Regions from separate parts of the Homo sapiens genome. Here region 1 is linked to region 2. Evidence: fine-mapped expression QTL. A gene starts in region 2. The other region holds a variant in brackets. All regions are shown on one strand. Distances are from middle to middle. Region 1 has its middle 5.8 kb from the start of LINC02020. Region 2 holds the start of DNAJB11 (DnaJ heat shock protein family (Hsp40) member B11).

Evidence for each region. PIP is the estimated chance that this variant, and not a neighbour inherited with it, causes the effect.
Region 1: its variant is fine-mapped to the expression of DNAJB11 in tibial nerve (GTEx, PIP above 0.99). The same link has a PIP of 0.9 or more in sigmoid colon and sun-exposed skin.

What each region holds. Positions count from the first base shown.
Region 1 is chr3:186,433,119-186,436,035 of GRCh38, reverse strand. No RefSeq gene overlaps it. Among named protein-coding and RNA genes, the nearest start is that of LINC02020, 5.8 kb to the left of the region's middle. The variant A/T (reference allele first, on the strand shown) is at 1,689.
Region 2 is chr3:186,569,339-186,572,255 of GRCh38, reverse strand. DNAJB11 (DnaJ heat shock protein family (Hsp40) member B11) reads right to left here and starts at 1,536. Exons shown (of 10, transcript NM_016306.6): 1 at 1,291-1,536; 2 at 5-161. The coding sequence starts at 1,358. It also overlaps a transcript of TBCCD1 not described here. RefSeq lists a silencer at 1,285-1,524.

The DNA.
Region 1 (2,917 bases), 140 kb after region 2:
GTGGAGACGGGGTTTCGCCGTGTTGGCCGGGCTGGTCTCCAGCTCCTGACCTCGAGTGATCTGCTCGCCTCGGCCTCCCGAGGTGCTGGAATGGCAGACGGAGTCTTGCTCACTCAGTGCTCAATGCTGCCCAGGCTGGAGTGCAGTGGCGTGATCTCAGCTCGCTACAACCTCCACCTCCCAGCCGCCTGCCTTGGCCTCCCAAAGTGCCGAGATTGCAGACTCTGCCCGGCTGCCGGCCCGTCTAGGAAGTGAGGAGCGTCTCTGCCTGGCCGCCCATCGTCTGGGATGTGAGGAGCCCCTCTGCCTGGCGGCCCAGTCTGGGAAGTGAGGAGCGCCTCTTCCCGGCCGCCATCCCGTCTAGGAAGTGAGGATCGTCTCTGCCTGGCTGCCCATCGTCTGGGATGTGGGGAGCGCCTCTGCCCCGCTGCCCCTTCTGAGATGTGAGGAGCGCCTCTGCCCGGCCGCAACCCCGTCTGGGAACTGAGGAGTGTCTCTGCCCCGCCGCCACCCCGTCTGGGAGGTGAGGAGCATCTCTGACCGGCTGCCCCGTCTGAGAAGTGAGGAGCCCCTCCGCCCGGCAACCGCCCCATCCGGGAGGTAGGGGGCAGCCCCCGCCCGGCGGCCGCCCCGTCTGGGAGGTGGGGGGCGCCTCTGCCCCACCGCCACCCCGTCTGTGATGTGTACCCAACAGCTCATTGAGAACGGGCCATGATGACGATGGCGGTTTTGTCGAATAGAAAAGGGGGAAATGTGGGGAAAAGAAGGAGAGATCAGATTGTTACTGTGTCTGTGTAGAAAGAAGTAGACATAGGAGACTCCATTTTGTTCTGTACTAAGAAAAATTCTTCTGCCTTGGGATGCTGTTAATCTATAACCTTACCCCCAACCCCGTGCTCTCTGAAACATGTGCTGTGTCCACTAAGGGTTAAATGGATTAAGAGTGGTGCAAGATGTGCTTTGTTAAACAGATGCTTGAAGGCACCACTCCCTAATCTCAAGTACCCAGGGACACAAACACTGCGGAAGGCGGCAGGGTCCTCTGCCTAGGAAAACCAGAGACGTTTGTTCACATGTTTATCTGCTGACCTTCCCTCCACTATTGTCCTATGACCCTGCCAAATCCCCCTCTCCGAGAAACACCCAAGAATGATCAATAAATACTAAAAAAATTTTAAAAAAAAGAAAGAAAAAGAAAAGAATAAAGGACTTATTATCCTAAAAAAAAAAACAAAAAACAACAACAAAAAAACACCCACTAGGATAGTCACAATAAAAAAATTTCTAATTTAAAAAATGTGTTGGCAAGAATATGGAGAAATTGGAACCCTCACACATTACTGATGGGAATATCAAATGGTGCATCCACTGTGGAAGACAATTTGGTGATTCCTCAAAAAGCTAAACAGAATTGCCATGCAATCCAGCAATTCCACTCCTAGATGTGTACCCCAAAGAGCTGCAAACAGGTGCTGAAACACATACTTACACATGAGTGTTCATAGCAGCACCCTTCTTGATAGCCAAAAGGTGGACACAATGCAAATGTTCATCAAGTGATGAATGAACAAGCAAAACGTGGTATCTAAGTACCATGGATTATTACTCAGCCATAGAAAGGAATGAAGTACTGATACATGCTACACTATATGTGAAATTTTAAAATATCATGCTAAGTGAAAAAAGCC[A/T]GACACAAAAGGTCACATATTGTGTGATTCCAGTGATACGAAATATCCAGAATGGGTAAAGCCACAGAGTCAGAAAGCAGATTAGGAGTTGCCAGGAGCTAGCGGGAGGAGAGAATAGGGAGTGGCTGCGTAGCGAGTATGAGATTTTCTTCTGGGATAATGAAAATGTTTACAACTAGCTAGTGGTAGTGGTTGTATAGCATTGTGAATGTAATAAATGCCACTGAATGAAACACTTTAAAACGGTTAATTGTATGTTACATGAATTTCACCTTTTGTTTTTAAAGGATGCATTGAGATATCATGCCCCCACTCCTGTCCCTCATCTTTAACCATTTCCACATTTCCTTTATCCTTCCAGGGCTGAAGGATGGAAACAGTATTCTGCCTTCAAAGAGAAAGACAGGCAAAACCCCAGCAGGCGTGTGTTGCCCCAAGTTTCAGAGCCCACAGAATATATAGAAGAGCATTCAAGATAGGACTGTACTAAACATTTAATGTAGAAATAATGCCAATTCTACATTAATTCTTCTACAATATTGTGGAGAGGAAAATAGTCCCCCACTCATTCTCATTAAAGCCAGCATCGCCCTGAAACCAAAACTAGACAAAGACACTGTAAGAAAACTATAGACCAATATCCTTCATGAAAATTGATGCAACAATTTGAAACAAAATTTTACCAAATAACCAACAATATATAAAAAGGACAATACATTATGACCAAGTGGGATTTACGCAAGTTGAATAGTACTGGGTTGGTTGAACACTCAAGAATCAACAATGTAATTTGCCATAGTAACAGATTACAACAACAGCGACGTGTGATCATCTCAATGGATGCAGAAAAGCCATTTGACAAAATCTAAACACATTCCTGATTTTAAAAAAAAAACCTCTTAGAAAACTAGGAATAGAAAGGAACTCCCTCCACCTGATAGAGGCTGTGTACAAAATACCTAAAACTAACATCGTATTAAATGCTTTTTCCCTAGTACCAGGAACAAAACAAGGATGTTGGCTCTCCCCATCCCTATTCAACAACATATGGGAGGTTTTATCTGGGGCCATCAGGCAAGACAGAGAAATAAGGTTATCCATATTGGAAAAGGAGAAATAAAACTGTTCTTATTTGCAGGCGACATGATCATTCATGTAGAAAGAATGCAATCTACAAACAGCTGCTATAACTAATACATGAGTTTAACAGTGTTGCACAATACACAATT
Region 2 (2,917 bases):
TCACCTCATAAGCAGCACCCAGATCCTGGAATTTCTCCTGGGCTTGTGGATCATCAGGGTTCCGGTCGGGATGAAGCTGCAGGGCTAGTTTCCTATAGGCCTTTTTAATATCCTTTATAGAGGCACTTCGAGGCACCCCCAAGATCTTATAGAAATCTCGTCTGGGAAGTAGAGGGAGAGAATACTTCATTAAAGAGTTACATGTTACATTTTTCAAAGTAAAAGATTTATTTTTCCTCTACATTTAGGTTTGTATCTGAGCAAAGAGGTATAAAAATGAAGGTTTATGTGACACATACACACACAAAGAATGACTAAAGAGAGAACACCAGAATTTGTAATGAATCTTATATATTGAAGTAATCACAGTAAGAGGCTATATACTTCTTTTCGGATTATTCAAAACATCTGTGGCACTTTTCTTTCAGAACCACCTTCGGTCAAGAAAACCACTTCCTTATTTTATGGTCTCATGTTATCTTTAGGCAATAACCATATAATCAAATTAACTCTTCCCCCCTTTCCCTATACTGGCTCCAAATGATTTTGACTTTTCTAAAAGTCAAATAACACTCTCAAAGGATGATTTTCCTTCTTTAAAAAGATTATGCCACATAAATGTCCTAACAGTAGCACTGCCAGAATGTTAAAGATGAAGCAACTTAAGATAATAAATAGCTCAAGAAGCTGGGAAGTACAAGGGCTGTCTAAAGATCTTCTTGTTCCCATCCCGCATCCAATTTCGTTCAGTCCCAACTCGGGCTGGCATCATCCACCCACTTTAATGTCAGCCCCAGAATGGCTCTTCGAAGGCTTGGCATAGAGCATCGTCCGCTTCTCCACCTCAGCGGGGCACAGCAACTCACCTCTTTGATCAAACAAACGTCCATCCCCTCAACCTCAGCCTGGCACTGTCACTATCTTTCCTTACAGTCAGGCATCCCTCTTTCTTCCCCAGCTCTACGTGACACTGCTTCAGCTCGCAACCACCTTCTTTCCCTCATCCCCCAAATGCCGTTTGGCAATGCATCCAACTCCCACTCCTCTGGGCAAATCTAGCTCTACCTAAGACCCTCTCTGGACCTAAGGCCCTCTCACTGGTGTCACCCACGGTTCTCCTCTCACCCCACTAGCCTGGCCCATACTACCCCTTCCTCCGCCACCCCGCCAACCCACAGCGATGCCCCTCTCCACTCCGTCAGTCTGGCAATGCCACTTCCCCCACCCCCTCCCACCCCCCAGCAAAGGCTGACCCACAGGCCCCGTTGTCTGCGAGTGTCTGTTCCTCACCCGGCAATCACCGCCCCGATGAGGTATAGCAGCAACAGGCAAAAGGTGCTCAGGTTCTGCGGAGCCATGGTTCCTCTGTCCCGGGTCCTGTTCCACACACTCCTCACAGCCTCCTCCGCCGCCGCGTCGGCTCGCCAGCCCACCCGGCCCTGTGAGGCCGCCTCACACCGGGGGGGCGCGGGGGTCTCCTTGGTCCGCAGAGACAGCTAGCTAGCCCCCTCTTCTGCCGGTCCACTTCCCGGGAGTCCCGAGTCCCGGTGAGAGAAGCCCCCGGTAGGCGAGAGCCAATCGTTGCCCGGGACATCACACGCGGCCGGCGCCTGGAAGCCAATCAGCGCAGTACACTTCACCTCCGAGGCGGCACGGGCAACCAGTTAGGCTTCAGAACTGCAGTCGCAGCTCTTGACCAATTAGAAGCGGAGACGTCAGAGGGTCGCGCCGCTGCAGGAACCCGCTCTGCCTGAGCTACCGCGAGTCGTAGAAAATTACGTAATGATAGGGGGCCGGTCAGAGTGAGGGCACCTGAGGTACACGAAATCCCTCCGGCTTGCCCACTTCCTCGGACTTTCCACCAATCAGGAGCTTCCTCCCCAGCACCAACCAATTGTGGGAGAGAAGTTTTCTCTGTGCTACAAGCCCGGAATTTCATTCATACCCAGCTACGCTCCGAATGAGGGAGCAGAGGTACAGCGGCCGAATGAGCGGGAACAGTTATTCCACGACAGGTGTACATCAGACGCATTGCTTAGGCCTCTTATTTTACGTTCTCCAAGCAACTCCATAAGACAACTGTCTCGGAAAGGCTACAGTGATGACAGACCGACTTAAGTTCGGATTCGGCTTCCACCGCTTCTTAGTGGTGAGACCCCCCACCCCTCCCCTCCTCCCAAGTCTGAGCCTAAGTTTATCAACAAAACTGAGGCAAAGCACTTATTGGCAGTTCTGTGAATTTTAACAGGGAAAAAAATCGGTAAATCATCGGGCGTATAGTAAGCAGGCAACGAGTAAAAACCATTATTACGGTTCAAGCAGAACTCTTTGATTCCCCATCTTCCCCCCGATTTTGCTCATCGCAGTTACACAACACCTAGTTGATCAGGACAAAGCTCTAGGTGTTTTTATTCCTTTCATGCATAAGCTATCCAACTCTTTACCTCTGAACTATACTTCAATCTGTTCACTACATCTCCATTACCAGGATTCTGGGTCACAGTGTATCTCTCACCTGGCCAGGGCCTCCTAACTGGCCTCCTTGCCCCCACTCTTAATATCTTCCTTAATATCTTAATATATGTTGCTCATCCCTGTCCCTCACTCCATGATTTAAAAAAAAAAAAAAAAAGCCCGGGCGCGGTGGCTCACCCACCCAAAGTGTAATCAGCACTTTGCGAGGCCGAGACGGGCGGAGCACCTGAGGTCAGGAGCTTGAGACCAGGCTGGCCAACATGATGAAACCCTGTCTCTACTAAAACTACAAAAATTAGCCAGGTGTGGTGGCGAGCGCCTGTAACCCCAGCTGCTCGGGAGCCTGAGGCAGGAGAATTGCTTGAACCTGGGAGGTGGAGGTTGCAGTGAGCCGAGTTCCTGCCACTGCACTCCAGCCTGGGCGACAGAGTGACACACCGTT